2 separate regions of the Homo sapiens genome follow, and region 2 is linked to region 1. A link means that fine-mapping ties the variant in region 1 to the expression of a gene that starts in the linked region. Tissue or cell type: cultured neurons. Region 1 holds a variant in brackets; the other region holds the start of a gene. All regions are shown on one strand. Distances are from middle to middle.

Region 1 (10,941 bases):
ACATGATCTAGGTACTATTATTATTCCCATTATAAAGTGAGGAACCTCATAGAGTGCCTAAGTAACTACCCCAGAGTCATATAGTACTTTTGGCACTCAGATTTAAACCTAGGCTGTTTAGAAATCTGGGCTCTTATTTAGGTTTTATAAGACTAATACATCTAAATAAGACGCCATTTTACTGCTTCTTAATATTTGGATTCCCTAATGTTAGTAATGTGGAGAGCAGATTGGATATGAAAGGGGCATTTTCTATAAGTGATCAAGTCTTTCTTTAATACTGAGCTATAACAGCCTCACAATAAAACGAGATGAATTTCCAATATTTTAATCTTTTTTCCTTGAGGGGATAGAAAGAGAAGGGGTATTTGTGCATGCCTTTTCCAATCAGTACAATTAGCATGTAGATCCTAAACATATATTATGCATATTTTACCTGATCATCTTAACACAGGGATTAGAACATTTTATGCTTTTTGGTTTACTGTCTTCACCTCTAATTCAGTTATTAAAATAATTCTGACGGTGCAGTTTAAGGTTCATTTCATCGTTAGTCTAAATTTTAATACTGAACATTCTTCACTTTACATTTCACTTATACACTGAGTATAATAATCTGTAGTTCATGTCCATCTAGGATGAAGGTGTTTATGCACCTTTGTTTCGTTTCCTTTTTTTTTTCAAAACTAGTCTCCTTTTGAGTGAAATCTGAACTGCATGTACTATTTGCAATTTGCAGTAGAAGACTGGCGTAAAAAAGAAATAATGAAAGCTATATTAGTATTGTCCCAGAAAATAACTGGTAATGGTGTAATCAATTTTCTCCGGTGATTTCTCTTTCCCTAGTTTTGACTGCTTTGCCTCCATCCATCTGAATGGAAAAAAAATGCTGAGTGCTTTTGCTGATTGCTGTTGGTCATGGACTACATTAACTAGAGTCCTGCAGCTTTACAGATAATTTGGTTTACACCTCTAAGTCTGCCAAATTGTCATCATTTAGCCATATTCATATGAGGCTCTTTCCTCATTAGTCAGTGATAGGCATAGCTATAATACATCTTTAGCGAGAAATGTACCAGGAAGCTCAGGCAGTAGGAGCCAATATTTATTGAGCACCTACTATGTGCCAGGACCCAGGTTAAGTTCTTTGCTACATTATCTAATTTAATCCATGTAATAATCCATTACAACATGTACTGTTATTATACCCATTGTATAGGAGGAAAATATCGAGGCACAGAAAAATAAGTTAACATGTCCATGGTCATACCAGTTAGTTATGAAAATTACTGACCAGGATTTGAAGCCAGGCAGTCTGACTCCACAACCAATGCTGTCTGTCACTATATTGTATTGCCCTCTATGTACTCATGTTTTTTGAATCCTTACAAATCAATTCAACAACATTGAATTAGCCTTTATTTTGTGCCAGGGACTGTGCAAGATACCAGAGATGCTAAGATTATTAAGATGTAGTCTCTTCCCCTAAATTACTCATGACTTAGTGTGAAATTTGTTGTAATAAAGGCACAGAGGGTCACAGAAAAGTAAGTGACTGCCTCAAAGGAGAGGGTTAGAGGCGAGGTCAGGGCAAGCTCCACAGATGAGATGTCTCTTGATCTAAGTTTTAAAATGTGAGAGAAAATATCACGTGCAAAGGCATGGAAGTGTGAAACTACGTAACACCTTAAACAGGTGAGAGACAACACAGCACACTAACTACAAGCATGGATGCTGGAGCTGGATGGCCTGGGCTTGAACCTGGCTCTACTTGGTGTCAGTGTTGAGTTCCTTAGCTTCTTGTGCCTCAGTTTCTCATCTATGCCATGAGGATGGTAATACTAGTAACTCCCTAGTAGTGTAGGGTGATGATTAAATGATTAAGGTACATAAAGCGCTTAGAGGCAGCGGTGCCTGACATAAGTCTCCATGATATCTAGTTATCATTCTTTTTTTTTTTTTTTTTTTTTTTTTAGACAGAGTCTCACTCTGTCACCCAGGCTGGAGGACAGTGGCGTGATCTCGGCTCACTGCAAGCTCCGCCTCCTGGGTTCACGCCATTCTCCTGCTTCAGCCTCCCAACTAGCTGGGACTACAGGCGCCCGCCACCACGCCCGGATAATTTTTTGTATTTTCAGTAGAGATGGGGTTTCACTGTGTTAGCCAGCATGGTCTCGATCTCCTGACCTCATGACCTGCCCGTCTTGGCCTCCCAAAGTTCTGGGATTGCAGGCGTGAGCCACCACACCTGGCCATCTAGTTATCATTCTTATTACCTACAACTTTTATTATTTTTGATGCCTATTAACTCCTCACTGCTATGTTACTGATAAGATAGACTAGACTGGATCACACTCTATTATTTGTTTTCAAGTGTCTCTAAGCTTTTCAGAGGTACCAACCCAGTTCGTTTAAGGAAACTCTAGTTTCCTTACAAAGTTGGTTGGCAATAAATGAGTTGTCCATTCTGCTTAGAAGAACCTAGCAAGTAGTGCTGCTTGGAACTTTCCCCTTAAGACATAATTTTACTCTGAGCCCCCAAGAAAAGAAGAAGGAAGGAAAAGATGAACAGGAATGACCCGTTGAGGGCAAAACCCATGAAAATTGATCATGGCTCTTTTCTCCGACAATGGCATCATTGGCCTGGCAGAGCACAAGAGAGCTATCAGGGGGACTGTCCTCTTGCATGTGCTCAGGAACTTGTCCTCATTGCCTCCAGGTGCTGGGTTTCTTAGAGCCAGAGGTGGCAGGCATGTGGAGGGAAGGCTTCTGTGGATCCTCCCCTCTTCCTCTCAAATGTTCCTTTGTAGATTTAAGAATTAAAAAGTGCAGTAAAATTTGTTTTATAATTATAGCCCCAGGAAACATGAGTTTTAGTCTTAGCTTCGACATTCACTGAGTAATAATTATTGCAAGCACTTATGTAGTGTCTACTATGTGCCAGATGTTTTTGAATCATGTTACTTGCATCACCTCATTTAATTCTTACAAGAGCTCAGTAAGTTGGTATATATGTGTATTTGTCAAGCTTAGCTAGGTTATGCTGTGATAACAAACAACCACCAGATCTCAGTAGTTTGTTTCTCACTCGTGCTCTTTGTTCGTTGTAGGTTCATGGGAATTCCGTTCCACTCTGTCTTCACCCCAGGATGCAGGCTAAGAAAATGACCTTCATACAGAATGTTTCAGATTTTATGTCAGAGAACAGGAAAGGGCAAATCTCACATTAGCTCTTAAAAGTTTCCACAAGGGGATGACACAGACACTTCAGCTCACATTTGATATCCAGACCTAACTTCACGTGGGCATGGAACACATGGCTTATGTGCCTAGAAGTGGAAGAATCAGAATACTGGTGAACAGCTCTAATGACTAATATCATATATAATTATTAGCAGCATTTTGCAGATGAGGACACTGAAGAACAGAGAGATTAAGTAACTTGCCCAAAGTTACATAATTTATAAGTGGTAAAGCTGGGATTTGAATTCAGGCAGTTAGCTCCAGAGAATACTCTTAACTGCTGTCCATAAGCCTTTTCTGAGGCACTGAACCTCGGTTCAGTTTACCCATCTGTAAAATGGGAAAAGAAACTTTTCTTCTATGCCTTACAGGGATGCACTCAAAAGTCATCCATCCATCCATCTATCCATCTGCTCATCCGTTCATCCATCTGTCTTCCATCCATCCATCCATCCATCCATCCATCCATCCATCCATCCACTCTTGTAGTAATTGGCACACAGTTCTGGACTGAACTGTTTTGCCTCAGAATTCATATGTTGGATCCCTATTCCCCAGTGTGAGGTATGTGGACATAGGGCCTTTTGAAGGTAATCACTCTCTCTTTGCCATGTGACAGCATAATGAGAAAGTGGCCATCTACTAGTCAGGAAGAGAACGTTAACCAGGAACTGAATTAGCTGGCACCTTGATCTTGGACTTCCCAGCCTCCAGAACTGTGAGAAATAAATGTCTATTGTTTAAATCACCCAGTCTATGCAGCAATCTATAGCTGCCTGAACAGATTAATACTGATACAATAGAAAGTAACTGGAGAAGATTCTTTGGATTAGGATGTCAGGGAAGGACCATCTCCAGAAGTAACCTGTGAGCTAAGTTTTGCATGTGAAGACGTAGGGAGGAGAAAGAATGATAAGTAAAAGACTGAGGCAGGAATGAGCATGGCATCTTTGAGGAATAAAGGGAGTCAGAGTAGCTGGAATACAGTGATGAGGAAGAAAACAGTAGGCAATACGGGTGCAGGGGGAAGCAGAGGCCAAGTCATAAAAGAAAGATAAAATATACCAGGGATTTTTTCAAACTTTTTGAGAGATTAACCCTTTTTGAGAATCTGCTGAAAACTATGGACATGCTCATCAGAAAAGACCACATTCATATGACATTTTGCATAAAATACCAGAGGTTTTGTAGCCTTCTACCCTCATGTCTATCCAGAACCTAGACTGGGAACATCTGACAAATATAAAGACACTTTGAATAGCACATAGGGAAAGGGAGGGGAGAAAGAGATTTTCATTGTCTGCAAGCTTTCTCTGTGCTGGGAATTCTGCCAGTTATGATAGATTAATTATTTAACATTTTCCATGATCCCATTTTATAAATGATAAGATTCAGGGAGATTCAGGGAGGCTAAGCAATATGCTTTAGGCTAAATGGGTAATAGACAAAGAATTTAAATCGAGGTCAGCTTCACTCCATAGATAATATTGTTGTTATTGTCGTTGTTATTATTATTATTATTAGGTGTAGGGTCTAGTTTTACCCTGCCAAGGGTATTTTAATTATTTGGTGGAGGCTCTACATTTTCAACCAGCCAAGAGTATCCATTTCCTTTTCACTGGCTCTAGTTGAATAGCAGAGCAGCTCAGATTCTAAGTTTCCATTTCTCTACTGCCGCACTGATTATAATGTCGGCCTTTATTACTCCCAGCAGAGCAGTGAAATACAATCCCTACACCACTACCAATTAAGGCAGCTTCAATT[C/A]TATCTACATGTTCTTCCTCTGTGCAGATGCCAGCAGATCTGTTCCAAGACCCTTCCGGTTGTTTAGTATTCTGCTCAGAGGAGTCATTTGCTGATCATCTTCTTTCTTAATTAGGGATCTAATGTATTGCAGCTGACCCTTGAACAAGAGAAAGATGGAGACCTGGCTGGAAAGGAGGTGTGACCATTCATTTCAAGGTAATCAGCTTTGAAGCTGCTTGACATCTGCTATTGATTTTCTTGTGCCTGGAAAACCTCCTGAGAAAGGTTTCTGATCTCAGAAGTCTGAGCAATCTACGCATTTACTTATTCACTCACTGTGCAAGGCCAGGAAATGGCCTGCAATGAAATGAGCAGAGAAATACCTTCTCTGAAAAACCAAATGCATGGGAATGATTTCAAAGCTCCTTCCGGACCACAATGAAGGAGAGATAGTTAGCAACAGACAAGTTCCCTCCCCTCCATAAAGCCTTATACAGAAACTAATACTTAATAAACTACCTTGGGAGGCTGAGGTGGGTGGATCATGAGGTCAGGAGATCGAGACCATCCTGGCTAACACGGTGAAACCCCATCTCTACTAAAAATACAAAAAATTAGCCGGGCGTGGTGGCGGGCACCTGTAGTCCCAGCTACTTGGGAGGCTGAGGCAGGAGAATGGTGTGAACCCGGGAGGCGGAGCTTGCAGTGAGCTGAGATCATGCCACTGCACTCCAGCCTGGGTGACACAGTGAAGACTCCGTCTCAAAATAAAAATAAAAATAAAAATAATAAACTACCATTTACAGTAGACACTCTAAATATATCATTTCTAATATCAAAACACTGTTGGTTTTATTGCCTTTTCTTATGAATGGGGAAATTAAGGCTTAGAGATGTGAATTACTTTGCCCAGTGTCACACAGCAAGTAAATACCTGAGGTGGGGAGGAAAACCCATGTCAATGTGAGTCTCAAGTCTCTGTTCTTTCACTATGCTAGGCTGCCATAATTTTCTAGGTATGCATTTGCCTTCCTTGACTTTTCACTTGTTGTAATTTTGGGCCAGTTAAGTCAGCATCATTCAGAGATAGGGACTCCCTGCTGATGGAATTTGTCTTCCTTAGGTGTCATATCCAAGTAATTACAGAGTGCAGTAGAGCTAGATTACAATACTACACATTGTCAGTAGGTGTCACTATCTTATCTAATGTGATTATTTGTTCAAAAGTACTCACTGAGCACTTGCTATATGAAAGTCTCTAAGGATATAGTCATGAACTGACAGAGTCTCTGTTTCACTCAGCTTACATTTCAGTAGGGGAAAGTCTGAACCATGAAAAAATATATAATATATCAGATAGTGATCAGTGGAATAAATAAATGCTGAGATTTAAGGCTAAATTAATCAGCTTTGTGAGTTCGAAGTGTGTTGAATGAGGGAGGACTGTCTCTAGTGACACGAAACCAGCTGCCACACAATGTAAGAGGTCATCTCTTGAGAAAGGTCCCTGCCACTGACTCAGTTCAATCAAGCAATGAAAATGATCAGTACTCCCACTTCCACAGTGAAACAGATTGGGAAAGGAAAACCTCCCAGCAAGAGTTTACAGGGTTTACTGCCTGAGTGCTCTACTTAAAACCCTTAGCTGTCACCTATAGAATAAGTCCCAATCTTAGCACAATCTACCAGGCCCCTCATGATCTAATTTGCCTCTTCAGCCTGATCTCCAGCCATATCTTCCTTACACTTTACACCCCAGTAAACCAGAACTGCTTTTTGTCTCCCACATGAGTTTGCTACTTCACTCCTATAGCCCATTGTTGAAAATGACCATTCCATTGGAAAGTCATGTTTATTTTTTCTTATTTATTTAATCTCTACTCCTCTTTTAAGATCAAATTCAGTTATCGCCTCCTCAAAGAAGTCCTCCTTGGTTTCCCCAAGCTGAGTTAGGTACACTCTCTGATACTTCTTCAGCATCTTTGAATTCCATCCCTTGACTTCCATAATGTTTTATGATTGGCTGTTTCTGTGTTTAGTTTTCTGCTTGAAGGAAGGAACTAGGTCTTATTGATGTCTATACCCTCATTGCTGTCTGATAGAAATATAATGCAAGGTCAGGCACAGTGGCTCATGCCTTTAATCTCAACACTTTGGGAGACCAAGGTGGGAGGATGGCTTGAGCCCAGGAGTTTGAGACCAGCCTGGACAACATAGTGAGACCTTGTCTCTCGAAAAAAAAAAAAAGCCTGGTGTGGTGGCTCACACCTGTAGTCCCAGCTACTTGGGAGCTGAGGTGGGAGGATTGCTTGAACCCCAAGAGGTTGAGGCTGCAGTGAGCCATGATAGCAACACTGCACTTCAGTCTGGGCAACAGAGTGAGACCTGGTCTCAAAAAAAACAAAACAAACAAACAGAAATATAATGTAAGCCACATATGTAATTTTAAATTTTCTAGCAACCACATTAAAAAGTAAAAAGAAACAGATGAAATTAATGTTCATAATGTAGTTTATTTAACCCAATATATACAAATACTACCATTTCAACATCTAATCAACATGGAAAATTATCAACTAGATAGTTCACATTCTTTTTATTATAACAACATCCTCAAAATCTAGTGAGTATTTTACACTGACAGCACATCTTAATTTATAAGCTAATTTTCATCAAAAATATTTTATCTATATTTAGATTTTATAAAGCATATTCTCAAAAACAGTAGAATTGGCCAGGCACAGTGGCTCACACCTGTAATCCCAGCACTTTGGGAGGCCAAGGAGGGTGGATCACCTGAGGTCAGGAGTTCGAGACCTGCCTTGCCAACATGGCAAAACCCCGTCTCTACTAAAAATACAAAAATTAACTGGGTGTGGTGGCGGGCACCTGTAGTCCCAGCTGCTCGGGAGGCTGAGGCAGGAGAATCACTTGAACCCGGGAAGCGAAGATTGCAGTGAGCCGAGATCGCGCCACTGCACTCTAGCTTGGGTGACAGAGCGAGACTCCGTCTCAAAGAAAAATAAAAAAATAAACAGTAGAATCACATGCTCAAGCTGTTTGAAACAAACTTAAAAGTTTTCTAAAAACAGAATGGAATATCAAAGCATCATTTTCATTTAATTTTTAAATCTATATTGACAAAACTGGCTCATCATTTTAGAACAATCAATTTGACTTTGAATATGCTTTGAAGCCAAAGCATATTCATTTCAAAATCATGTCTGTCCACAGTAAATTCACTAACTCTTATGTCAACTCAGTATCAACATTGGGTTCAAAAGGGTATTGCAAAAATTGGAAAGCAGCTCTAAATTTACTAATATCAATACAATGTTCTTCAAATTTGTCTTGTCATTTTTGCAGCCAATGTACATAATACTGTCAATTACAATCTTCTGCATATTAATTCACATTAGAAAAATGTGTAATATAATTATTGTTGATTTGTATAATGAAAATTATAATTTCAGCAAATTCTCATACTGGTCTTGCTGAGTCACAAATAAACCTTTTCGTTCCATGAAACTTCAAATTTAGCTTGTTTATATGAGTGTGATATTGTCTAGGAATGTAAATCACAATGTCATTTTTTGTCTTTGATTTGGTGAATTTTGCTTCAAGCAAATGGAGTTAATAATACAGTAAATTTTTGTATAACTGTTCCACCACACAACTGATGAACACTAGCAAATATCACAAGATTGTTAAGTTAATTGTCTTCTATTTTGTTCAATAGATCCATAACTGGCAGTAATTCACAACTTTTATATGTATATACTGAAGAATTTTAACACCTGTGCACATGAGGCCTTTCACAGAATATGCTTCGGAAAAATATGCTTCAGAGTACAAATATTTTCATAGTACTTAGTGAAATGAAGCAATAAAGATAGTATCAGTCTGTTGTTTTAAATTCCAATAAATTTGGATTTTTAAAAAAAATCTAAAATAGTTTGAACACCATCCACCATGATAGAAAAATTTTATTTCCCACATCTAAGTAAAATTATTCTTTGGCAGATATAAAAGAGTTTAAAATAACTTTGCTACGAGTTCCATATTTTAGGTCATGGGTTGATAACAGATTTTTGTCTTCTAAATTTGCAAGCATTTTGAGACAACCTGCCCCCAGGTTGGGTAGTGTCTCTATTATTCTCAACTCATTTAAAGCTAAAATGAAGTCCTTTCAATTTATTCATATTTGAATAAATTTACCTTTGATATTGTTAGAAAAGTCTTCAATTATATGGACAATTGTTTGGTGGCATAATTGAAGTTCTTCTACTTTTTTTTTTTTTTTTTTTTTTGAGACAGAGTCTCTCTCTGTCACCAGGCTAGAGTGCAGCGGCGTGATCTTGGCTCATTGCAACCTCTGCCTCCCGGGTTCAAGCTATTCTCCTGCCGCAGCCTTCCCAGTAGCTGGGATTACAGGCGCATGCCACCACACCCAGCTAATTTTTGCATTTTTAGTAGAGACAGGGTTTCACCATATTGGCCAGGATGGTCTCGATCTCCTGACCTTGTGATCAGCCTGCCTTGGCCTCCCAAAGTGCTGGGATTACAGGCGTGAGCCACCAAACCCAGCCCCACTTTTTGTAAAATATCATTTTTAGTCTTTTCCTTACTACAAGCTTGGATTCTGTTAAAAATCATTTAAATTTTTTGACATTAATTCTGATGCCAGGTGGCTAGTTCAGTTAATCATTTTTTAATTTTTCAGGAGGAACTTATCAAATTCACCAAGTATTTGCTATAAATGTCTCGATACTGTCTATTACATTTTTCTTTCTGTTTTGTTTCTTTCTTTTTTTCTTTTCAAAACAGAGGGTCTCTTAGATTTGTTCTGCTGAAGTAAATTGCAATTGTCATTCATTGTAAAGTTTACAATATGCTTTCTTCCACTCTCTTATTTTTTTTCCATTCTAATCATAGTATTAATTTCTGCATCTCCATTATTTTAAGTAGAAAAAATTTGTCCATATTTATTTTTATACTAAAAAATAATTTAATTGTATTATAATTAAAATAATAACAAGTTCTTCAATTTAATTACCAATTAAGATTCACATAGTTACCACAGTAATTGGAGTTGTTAATATAAAACATTCAAAGATACATGTTACAATATTGCATTGCTGTGTAGGAAAAAAACATTTAAACTGAATCAATCCATCCACACTGACTGGATCAGTGATGTACTTATGCATAATAGTGGAAGCAACATGTGTACCCAAAAAGTGCATTAGTATACAGCACTGCTATATGAGGCCATGCAAAGGCTAAAGTGAGGTAGAGTTCAATCAAAACAATAATGTTGAATTTAATAGAAAAGTATTTTATATTGTTTCCATTTTAAAATTTAAATCTAAATTAATAATACAAATTTTAGGCCGGGCGTGGTGGCTCAGATCTGTAATCCCAGCACTTTGGGAGGCCAAGGCAGGTGGATCACCTGCGGCCAGGAGTTTGAGATCAGCCTGGTCAGCAGGGCGAAACCCCATCTCTACTAAAAATACAAAAATTAGCTGGGCTTGGTGGCACATGCCTGTAATCCCAGCTACTCGGGAGGCTGAGGCAGGAGAATCCCTTGAATCGGGAGGTGGAAGTTGCAGTGAGCCCAGATCGTGCCACTGTGCTCCAGCCTGGGCAACAGAGTGAAACTCTATCTCAATAAACTAAAATAAACTAAAATAAAAATTTAATTTCTCAGTAACATAATCATAGATCAACTGTGTTTAATAGCCACACGTAGCCAGAGTAGCTACTGTATTGGACAGCACAGGCCTAACACACACACACACACAAACACACACACACACACATCATTGATATATACCCCAACTTTACATCTGAAACCCAGAAATTAAGACCTAAATATAGTTGCATCGTACTCAACCATTCTGTAATCTAGGATCAATTACACAGAGATGATATCCAATTTTTAATAGA
Region 2 (10,941 bases), 510 kb before region 1:
TTTGGGAGTCAGGCTTTACTACTTCCTAACTATGTGACCTTGGGACATTTCTTAACTTCTCTAAACCTTAATTTTCTCATCCGTAAAATGGGGTTTGTAATAGTACCTGCTTCACAGAGTTACTGTGAAGATTTAGAAGTAAACTGGCCCAATGATTTGAACAGTGCCAGGCACAAAGCAACGAATGTTAGCTGTTTGTCATTAACCGTAAGCACCTTTATCAAAAAGGTATCTAGAGATTTTGTAAAGTCCAGGATACATTAATAGCATTAAAGCTATTGTCCTCATTTTTCTGGCCCCGATGGCTTACGTTTTCTGGGCATGGACACCCCTCTCCCAGTCCTCTGAAAAGTGTTTTTAGTACGGGCCATGCTGAGGGTGTGTTAGGTGCCACAATGGCTGGACTTATCTTGCTCATGCATAGCTTCCGAGGTCGATTAAACATGGTATTTAACCAACCTCCCTCCACACACACTGCCTTCTAGGGAGGACTGGAAAGCCTGCTGACTGTCCTGCAGGACTTGGGAGGGGTTTGTCTATATCCAAAAGACAGACAGTGGAGGAGGATGCTGAGCGTGGGGTCCCGCCAGGGGATGGCTAGACTCCTTGTCTGTCTGGCTCCCTTGTGAAATACTGGGAAATTAAAGGCCATTGTAAACATTTCCCAAAAGCAGTAAAGATTTTTTTATGCAGATGGGGATGTGACTCACTTTACCAAAGTTAAAGGGTCTAGAGCGTTGTGCTGAGGTTAGGAAGAATTGGAGGTTTTTGTTTTCTGATTAAAACATTGAATTTTAATTTTGGAGTTGAAGCTGTGCATGTTTCTCTCCCAGGTAGATCTGGGAGTAGGGAAAGGGGGTGTAGTAGGGTCGGGGGAGGAGTCTCAGGAGGGAGGGAGAGGGTGGGGTGCTGAGAAGTGTGCTCTGAGTATGCCGCATTTAGCAACTCTACCCTTATAGAAAAAACAGCTTAGAATCTCAGTGTGAAGGGACGTGAGTTGGCATCTGGTCAACCCTCTCATTTTGCAGCTGAGGCACACAGGGAGGAGCAGGTAGCTTGGATAGGGTTACTTACCCATGAGCCAAAGACCAACACTGGCTTCAAGCCTGCTCAGCACTGGGATGCTGACTTCTCTCTACCAGTGACCCACAATGCGTGACACTGGTGGCCCACAGGATGATTTAGGGGGGACACAAATGAACATGGATAATTTTAACAGTTAGATATTTATTTCAAGGTGTATTAGGAAAAATTATCTGGCCCATAAAACTCATAATCTATGGTAGTGATACAAAACACCATTTAAAAATATATTTAAGCAGAGCAAGAGGGAATTGTGTGTGTGTGTGTTTCTAAAATGTTGGCTAAATAACAGAATGGGTGACCTGTAGGGTGTCCTAAATCATGACCACAGTCCACTCCATCTTTAGGGCTTTTGGTGCTACAGGAGGCAGTCTGAGGAAGGCCTTTCAGGCTCTCCTAGAGTTTTAAGTCTGAGAAGGAGCAAACTTCCCCAGAGCATCCCCCCTCCCCTTCTCATCCTCCTTTCTTCTCCATTTCTCTCCTCCTTTGACTTTGTCTTCTTCCTTTCCATCCCCAGTGCCCAGAACAACCAGTAGGCAGCGGGAGTGGCTGGCCCTGGGTTGCTCTGGGAGGTCAGGATCTGCCTCACTCTACCCATTCCAGGAGCTTGGATTTATGTGGCACCCTGGCCACCAGGGGCAAAGCCTCAGGCCTTTTGCTCATCCTATCTCCAGGCATGTTAAGCTCACTCCATCTATCATTTTGGCCAGGGCTTCCTAACCTGTGAAGCAACTCAGCCTAAGCTATTAATGGGTTATAGTGGATAAATATGTAACAAGCAACCTCCTCCCACAACCCTTGACCTATGGCGATGGTACCTTAATACACCTTCAAGTCCTTCTCCCAAAGTCATAATTAAAAAATAAAACCAAAAGACTATGAAAGGTGGCACTGTTTATGTGTGGGTTCTAGCTAGGGTTAAAATAAAATGAATGAAAGTTCTTCTCTGCCAGCCTTCCTAAGAACAGCAACTGCAGGGGACTGACTTCGAGAGTCTTATCTATTGAGTGTCTTCTAGAATCAAACCCTTCATGAAGGCATCAGCTTTGTTTTGTTCACCACTGCATCCTCAGTGCCCAGAACACTGCCTGGCACTGGGTAGGGGTTTAGTTGGTATTTGTTGAGTAAACTAATGAGAGTATCAGGCTGTGTGCTCGGTGTTGGCGCTCCAGTTGTGGTTTCTGCCCTTAAGGTCTAGCCCAGAAGAGGAAACTGCAGATGGTGAGATGGTGCAGTAAGATGGGGCTGTGCTAGGCCCAGAGCTCGCTCACAGGAGGGCATGAATCGCATCATGCTTGGGCAAGCAGAGGAGGCTTTAAGCGGGGAAGGTACTTAAGTTGGGTCTTGAAGTATGATTCTCAAGGGGAAGGTAGGCTATGACGTGATCTGAGGTGTATAAAGTACAGGTAGGTTTGGGAGAGCTTGGCTTAAAGAGGAGTTACCATTTCTGCCCCTGGAGTCAGATTCTGGCTCCTTCCTTCCTTTCCTTCCTTCCTTCCCCCCTCCCTCCCTCCCTCCTTCCTTCCTTCCCTCCCTTACTCCCTTCCCTTCCTTCCGTCCCTCCCTTCCTTCCTTCCTTCCCTTACTTCCCTTCCACCCTCCCTCCCATCTTTCCTTCCTTCCCTCCCTCCCTCCTGTCTTTCCTTCCTTCTTCCTTCCTTCCTTCCCTCCTTCCTTTCCTCCCTTCCTTCCTTCTTTCTCCTTCCCTCCCTTCCTTTTCTTCCTTCCTTCCTCCCTCCCTTTCTCTTTCCTCCCTTCCTTCTTTCTTTTTTCTCTCTCCTTCTCTTTCCTTCCTTCTCTTCTCTTCTCTCTCTCTTTTTTTCCTTCTGACACAGCATCTCACTTTGTCACCCAGGCTGGAGTACAATGGTGCAATGATAGCTCACCGCAGCCTTGACCCCCTGGGCTCAAGCAATCCTCCTGCCTCAGTCTCCCAAAGTGTCAGAATTATAGATGGGAGCCACTATATCTGGCTCTCTGGCCATTTCTGACAATACACCAGCCCCAGGACTTCAGCAACTCCAGCTCGTGTCTTCCACTCCTCTGTTCCCCATCTCACTCTCACTGGCCCTCCTTGGCTCCAGCCAAAGTTATCAGGGCCTTGCGTTGCCACTGCGGGTGTTTGTTTTCAGATGATAGCATTCGAGGGGGCTCGACTCAAGAACACCAACCATGGATAAGGGCTGGAAGCAATGGTGTCCCGGAGCTGGCTCAGACTTGCTTATAAGAGGTGATTGTTAAATATTTAGACATCTTGTCAGCCAGTTATTAGATCATTGTTAGGTTGAAATCATTTGTGGTGGAAATATTTATACCCCAGAAACTGGCAAACACAACATATTAGGGTTCCCCCCTGTTTTCCCCAGAGAGCCAGTTTGCCAGCACACCACTGGCTGGAAGACAGTTTATGACTGTTTTCAGTATTCCAGGTAAGGATATGACATGTTGCACAAATGGCTTGATTGTCATTTTGTTAAAATAAAATATTTAAAAGCTTGACTTTAAAGCATCCAAAAAGGACACTCAAATGTTCCACACACATGAGCTGCCTGGGTGACCTTTTCTGGTGCAATCCTCAGAATAAGGCCTCTCCTTCCATCTTGGTTTATTTGGAGATTGCAGAGAAAGCCGGTAAAATACTGGTGATTTTGTCAACACTATGCTATTCAAGGACACAAAATAGAAAGGGAAGTTGGGTGCTGAGGCTAATATAGGACTGAGTTCATCAAAAGGGCCTTATTGTTCTCTTGATGAACTCTATCATACATGTTGTAAATGAAAAGTTATTGAATAAAATTACAGCTAATCTAATGCTACTTTTATCCATGATTTCAAGTTTCCTGTAGGATTTCATGCAAAAGGAGAGTTTTGAGTGGCCCAGTTCACTCATGTTTTGAAAGAGGACACAGCAGCCCCCGAGAGGAAGTCACTCTGTTTTGGTGGTACAACTGGAAAGGAAAAGGAAAGGAAAACTCACAGGGGAAGGAAGGGGTTTTTTTTTTTTTTTTTTTTTGGGAGACAGAGTCTCGCTGTGTCGCCCAGGCTGGAGTGCAGTGGTGTGATCTCGGCTCACTGCATCCTCCGCCTCCCAGGTTCAAGTGATTCTCCTGCCTCAGCCTCCCGAGTAGCTGGGATTACGGGTGCCCGCTGCCACGCCCGGCTAATTTTTTTTTTTTTTTTATTTTAGTAGAGACGGGGTTTCACTATGTTGCCCAGACTGGTCTCGAACTCCTGAGCTCAGGCAATCCTCCCGCCTCGGCCCCTCAAAATGCTGGGATTACAGGCATGAGCCACTGAGCTTGGCTGGGGTTTTTTTATTTTTAAGTTAGGACTCTCATCTCCCTCTCAGGGCCCTTTCCTTGATGAGGAAAGAAGTGAAAGTGTCCAAATTTCATTATTTTGGCAGGAAATAAAACCACCATCGTGAGCCGGGTACAGTGGCTCACACCCACAATCCCAGCCACTCGGGAGGCTGAGCAGGAGGATCGCCTGAGGCCAGGAGTGTAAGATCACCCTGGACAACATAGTGAGACCCTGTCTCTAACAAAATAAAAAAAGTAGCCATGTTTGGTGGTGCACGCCAGTAGTCCCAGCTACTTGGGTGGCTGAGGTGGGAGGATGGCTTGAGCCTAGGAGTTTGAGGCTACAGTGAGCTATGATCACGTCACTGTACTCCAGCCTGGGCACCAGAGACAGACTCCATCTCTTTAAAAAAAATCACCATCGTGTTCGATGCCAACAGCACCTGAACACAACCCACGCTTGCTAGTGTTTCATAACATGCACCTACAGGGGCTAATGTGGTTTAGCCTTGCTGGTTTCTCTGACCTCATCTCCTACCACTTGCCCCCTCCCTCTCTCTTTTACTTCCTAGAACTCACCAAGCTCAGTGTTGCCTCAGGGACTTTGCCCTTGGTACTCCCTCTGCCTGCAAAGCTCTCGCTGCAGCCAGTCCCATAGCTAGGCAGCGCCTTCTCATGATCTGAATAGCTGATGGATCATCCCATCTAAAGCAGCCCATCTGTTACTCCCAGTCATATGCTATTGCATTACTCTGTTTTGTGTTTTTCCTCGCACTTAGCACTGTCTGAAATTATTTTGTATTAATAGTTTTCTATACCCTCCAAAATAATAAGCAAAATATGGGCTCTATGAGAGTAGGGACTTGGTCTTTTAAACTCGCAAATGTATTCCCTGCTCCTTGCACACTAGCAGGTGTTTAGGAACAATTTACTGAATGAATAAAGGGATGCTGACCCTGGTACCTAGGCCCTCTTTTGACCTAAGCGGGTGGTTTTCAAACTGAATTCTATGGAGGGAATGGCGCCATGCCGGGAGCCCGGCTGGGTGGGTCTCTAGATCTCTTTTCTTTTTTCATTCAGAACAGCTCCACTAGGATCTGTTTAATATACTAAGTGTTTTCATTGTTCATTGGACAAAGGGCTCAAAGTCAAAAGAGCAAAGCCAGGTCACTGTTGAGGAAGCATTGGGTGGAAGGTTGGACGCCACATCTTTGGAAGTCCTCTTTAACCCCAATACTTGTGATTCCATGAATGGGACACAAGTCGAGTCAGCTTTGATATTGAGATGCGGTGGCAAGAAGAGAAGGACCATGACAGACGTGTTCTGGCGAGGGAGTGGGTGGGGGTTCCCCAAGCATGGGGGTGGGGGTCTTCCAGAGGGCGGCAGCCTGGTTCTAAGTTCTTCCTGCAGCTGCCTCAGCTACCTGCCCCTGAGTCATGACCTGCGATGCACTGGCTGATGCTTTTAGCTGAGGCCACATTTGAGGATCCAGCATTTTCCGACCACAACTTTAAACATAATGTTTGCTCCTCCACTCACCAAGAGAGCAACGGTCTTGCTCTCTGCGGTCTCATTAAATAGGATTCTATTTTCACAGCACTCACTTTTAGGACATTCTTATTTGCTGTTCCAGGCTCTCGGAGAGGCAGCCCAAGAGGCGCTGCTGCTAAAATGACTCTGGGCACGGTAGAGATGGGGAGATACGGAAATGAATAGCAGCTTTGTTTATTTGGCATGGGACCAGGCAAGAGGAGCTATATTAAAAAATAAATAAAGTTCCCCTTCTTTCCTCAAGACAAAAAACAAAACAAAACAAACAAAAAAAAACAAACCTATTCCGGCTGCGTGGCCAACAACACAATTTCCCTCACAGAACAGAACAGATGTGAGTACATTGAGATTAACTTTGTAGGAAGAAATTTAAAAAAATAAAATAATGATGAGCGGTCGTGGGATAGGGCTGGTGAGGGGGTAATATCAAGAGTATTTGAGATGCCCTCATTAGGAAGCCGGAAATAAAATGAAGCAATGGCCTGAGTATGGTTCTATCGACATATAGACACTCTGAGGCACCCACATATCCACAGGGCTCCCAAGTATTCCTGATTCCCTCTCTCGCAGACCTGGCTTGAGGTCTTCCCACAGTGGGGAAGAGATAATAACTATTAATAGTATGGCCATTCTCTGAGCATTCACCATGTGCCAAGCTCTGTGCCGAGTATCCCGTGCACACCATAATGGATGTAATTCACCATTCTTCCCACTGGCTTCGCTTGTCTGAGCTTCAGTTTTCCCTTCTGTAAATGGGTTTAATCAGATTACCTACCCCAGAGAGCTGCTGTGACAACTGAGTAGGAAAACGCACATGAACTACGAAGCACAGGGCCTGGCACCTAGTATGCGGTCAATAAATACACGGTTTATGATGGTGACTATTTTCCGTAAGGTATTTCAAATTCAAAATGTTAAAACCTGAACCCATTCTCTTTCCCCTTCAAGCCATTTTTTCTTGATTGTACACTTCAGTAATGGAATCGTGATAATCTTGAGTTCTTTTCCCGCCTGGCACAGTCAGTTCCCAAATTCATTCAAGTCTGCCGTTTTTCATATCACTCGACTGCATCCTTATCTCATTCCTCACGGCCTTGCTTCCTGCCTGGGTACAAACCCTTATCATCTCTTCTCTGAACTGCCGCAGTTTCTTCCTAATGGGGCCCTAATCCCCCGCTTCCAACCCCCACCCCTCTCTTCTCTTCACACCACTGCCAGGACGCCTTTTTTCCCTTATGAATCTGACCATGCCTATTCTTTGCTTGAAACCCACCAGTGGGTCTCTCTCACCAAGAAGATAAAGCCTGTATTCTAGAGTGTAGCATGAAACACTCTCATGATCTGGCCCCAGTCTCACTTTCTCTTCCTGGCCTCACTCCAGCCCAGGGCTTGTCCACACTGGCTTCACATTAGCATCACCAGGGGATAATACAATGCCAGCATCTGGGCCTTACTCCAGTCAATCACATTAGAGTCCCTGGGATTAGGCCCTGGGCAGAAGTGGAATTTACAAGCTTCCCGGGTGCTTCGAATGCACTGCCAGGGTTAAGCATCGCTGCTTCCCCCCATTCTGAGCAGCTTGCTTGGGCCTTTATGCTTTTGTGTGTAGGTCCTGCTGTGTTGGACAGTTTGCTCTGCTTTTTCTACCTGCGATGTCTCCTTATCTTTGGAGACACAGCTGAAGTTTCCCACCTTTATGGAAGTCTTCCCTGGGACCCCCTCGAAGGGGCTCCTGTTGCCCATGACATTTCCTGCTATGACAATGTAATCATTTGCTTGCATGGCTAGATTCCTGCTAGAAAGGGACCCCCTTGGGAGGCCCAATGTCCATTCATCTTTGGATCCTCACACTGTTGTGGTTGTCTAAGTACAGCGTCTACACACACTTACATGTTTTTTTGATAAATGAAAATATCATTGGAGATTTGTCCTCCATCATGACTCTAACTGGATTCTCAGCTCTTGGCTTATATTTCTGCTTTAGAGTTTATTCATTCTGCCTTGATCACAGTACATTGTCTACATGATCTTCCTCCACCACCTGTCCTCACTCTGGGAGCTTATTTCCTACCACTTTTTACCTCAAGCACTCACTCCTGCTCCATTGGCCTCCTCCCTGTTCCTTGACCTCCCTGTTCCTGCCCCAGGGCCTTCGTCTGTGCTGTTCCTTCTGCTGTCATGCCCTTCCTCCACATGTCCACATGACTCACTCTCTCCTTCCTTTACATGGCACCTCACAGAAAGGCTTCTCTGATCACATTCGTCACACTCTGCCTCTTACTTGGTGTCTTTCTTTTTCAGAGCCCTTCTCATCTCCTGATATATGGAAGATTTATTTGTTTATTCTTTTCTTCATCTGCTTCCCTCCATAGCATGTAAGCTGCATGGGGCAGGGACTTGATTGTGTTTGATATTGCATCTCCAGTGCCTAGAATAGTGCCTGGCATGTACAAAGTGCCTGGATGCTATAAATACTTCTTCAATACACGAATGAATGAAGATGATTTGCTTTCTAGTAAGCCAGTATTTTCTTTCTTTCCTTTTCTTTTCTTTCTTTCTCTTTCTTTCTTTCTCTCTCTTTCTTTTTCTTTCTTTCTTTTCTTTCTTTCTTGCTTTCTCTCTCTCTCCCTCTCTCTTTCTGACAGGGTCTTACTCTGGGGCCTAGGCTGGAGTGCAGTGGCATGATCATGGCTCCCTGCAGCCTCAATCTCCCATATTCAGGTGATCCTCCCACCTCAGCCTCCCAGGTATCCAGGACAACAGGTGTGCACCACCACACCTGGCATTTTTTTATTTTTATTTTTAGTAAAGATGGGTTTTGCCATGTAGCCCAGGTTGGTCTTGAACTCCTGGACTCAAGCTATCCACCTGCCTCTGCCTCCCAAAGTGTTGGGATTACAGGCATGAGCCACTGACCCTAGTCAAGCCAATATTTTTCAAACTGTGAGTTTGAAATTGGTCATCAAATCAACTTAATGGATCACAACCAACATTTTAAAAAATAAAATACACTAGAACTGAAGATATCACAATTCCTTGAACATAGTAAGGGCAAGTATTATTCTGTAAAACTTATCTTGGTCAATATACAGTATCTAGCAATCAGGTGGCAAGACAAAATGTATTCCTCATTGGGGTTTATTGTACACATTTTTGGAAAAGCATTGTGTTAGGCCAGAGATTGGCAAACGTTTCCTGTAAAGAGTCCAGTGGTAAATATTTTAGGCTTTGTAGGACATAAAAACTATTGAACTCTGATTTTGTAGTGTGAAAGTAGCCACAGACATTATGTGCACAAATAAGCAGGGCCATGTTATAATAAAACTTTATTAACAAAATCAGGTTGTGGGGCTAGATTTGGCCTGTGGGTGGTAGTTTGCCAAGCCCTGCGCTAGACTGTTGTCTAGCCTGTGACTATGTTTCATATGTGTAAATTCCCTTTATACAGGAGCTATGTCTTTTTCATCTCTGAATCTTAACCATGAGTGTGTCATCCCAGCATCTAACCCATTGATTAAATATAACAAATGTTCATGAAATGTTTGCCAATATATTCAATGAACATTTATTGACTCCTTAACTCCAAACAGCTTGGCACCAAATCCATCAGTATTTGTTGAATGAATGTAAGAGCCATGTCTTAGTCTGTCTGGGCTGCCATAACAAAATATCTTAGACTGGATAATTCAGAAATTTATTGCTGACAGCTCTGCAGGCTGGGAAGTCCAAGATCTAGGTGTCAGCAGATCAGTGTCTGATGAGGGCTTTATAGATGGTGACTTTTGCTGCATTCTCACACAGCGGAAGGGGCAAGGGAGCTCCCTCACACCTCCTACGTAAGGGCACTGATCCTATTCACGTGGGCAGAGTCCTCATGACTTAATCACTTCCCAGAGGAACCACCTCTTAATACTATCACATTGGGTATTAGGTTCCAACATATGAACCTAATAATATGTTTAGGAAGACACCAACATTCAGACCATGGCAAGCCATTAGTCTCAAATTCTCAAAAGCCTTTGCCCCTCCTCCAACCCTTCTGAAGATCAGGACTCAGAGCTCAAAGGTGTCCTTGCCCCAGCCGCTTGGGTCACTTGCTGCCAGGGGCCAGAAGGGGTGGTGGGAAGGTGATGGGAACAACAGGGTTTGATGGACTGTTTGGGGAACTGTCTAATTATCCTGCTTATCAGTGCTGGTTCCTTTTCTTAGCTCTTTCCCTTAATAAATGAAAACTCCTTCTGTTGTTATTGAGCTCCCGGGTCACTGATTCTTTTGAGTCATATAAACCACATGTTTATAGAGTTACAGTGTGACCGTGAAATTGAATGGAGGGGAAGGGAGGCACCAGAGAAGTGTCAGCCTTGAAAGGCAACACTTTCTCTTCCCAGGCTTCTGCTCATTGTGTAGGGCAAAGGACAGGGCTTTCCGCTGTCCAGGGCCCTGGCCTAGGCGGGGAGGGGAGCTGAGGTCACTGGGTACAGCTTGTGCGTCCACAGAGCTTACAGCCTGGTTGGGGAGGGAGATGGCCAGGCTCAGAGTTGAAGATGACCTAGATCATGCGTCAACAAACTATGGCCTGAGGGCCAAAGCCAGCGCACCACCCGTTTTTGTACAGCCCATGGGTTAAGAAGAGTTTTCAAAATTTTAAACAGCAGTCTCCCCTTATCCATGGTTTCACCTTCTGTGGTTTCAGTTACTTGCAGTCAACCATGGCCCAAAAATAGGTGAGTACTATACAGCAGGACATATTGAGAGGGAGAGACCACATTCACATGACTTCTGTGACAGTAGATTGCTATAATTGTCTGATTTTATTATTATTTATTATTATTTCTCTCTTACTGTGCCTAAATTTATAAATTAAACTATATCACAGTTGTGTATGTATAGGAAAACCCAGTAAATGTAGGGTTTGGTACTGTTCATGGTTTCAGGCTTCCACCGGGAGTCTTGGAATGTATCCTTTGCCAATAAGGGGGAGCTACTGTAGTCGGGAAAAAAAAT

Alleles and levels. Positions count from the first base shown, and alleles are read on the strand shown. Sizes are in standard deviations (SD) of each study's normalised expression.
In carriers of allele A in region 1, the expression in cultured neurons of the gene that starts at base 5,250 in region 2 tends to be higher than with C alone (moderate effect, 0.47 SD a copy in Aygun 2021).

What was found. PIP is the estimated chance that this variant, and not a neighbour inherited with it, causes the effect. A credible set is the group of variants that fine-mapping cannot tell apart.
Region 2: it holds the start of SYN3-AS1, and the variant in region 1 is the best candidate, but not a certain one, in a credible set for the expression of SYN3-AS1 in cultured neurons (Aygun 2021, PIP 0.65).

What each region holds. Positions count from the first base shown.
Region 1 is chr22:33,077,273-33,088,213 of GRCh38, forward strand. It overlaps a transcript of LARGE1 not described here. Among named protein-coding and RNA genes, the nearest start is that of SYN3, 24 kb to the left of the region's middle. The variant C/A (reference allele first, on the strand shown) is at 5,008.
Region 2 is chr22:32,569,690-32,580,630 of GRCh38, forward strand. It overlaps SYN3-AS1 (SYN3 antisense RNA 1), which reads left to right and starts at 5,250. Exons shown (of 4, transcript XR_001755503.2): 1 at 5,250-10,661. The region is part of intron 7 of SYN3 (synapsin III); the gene reads right to left.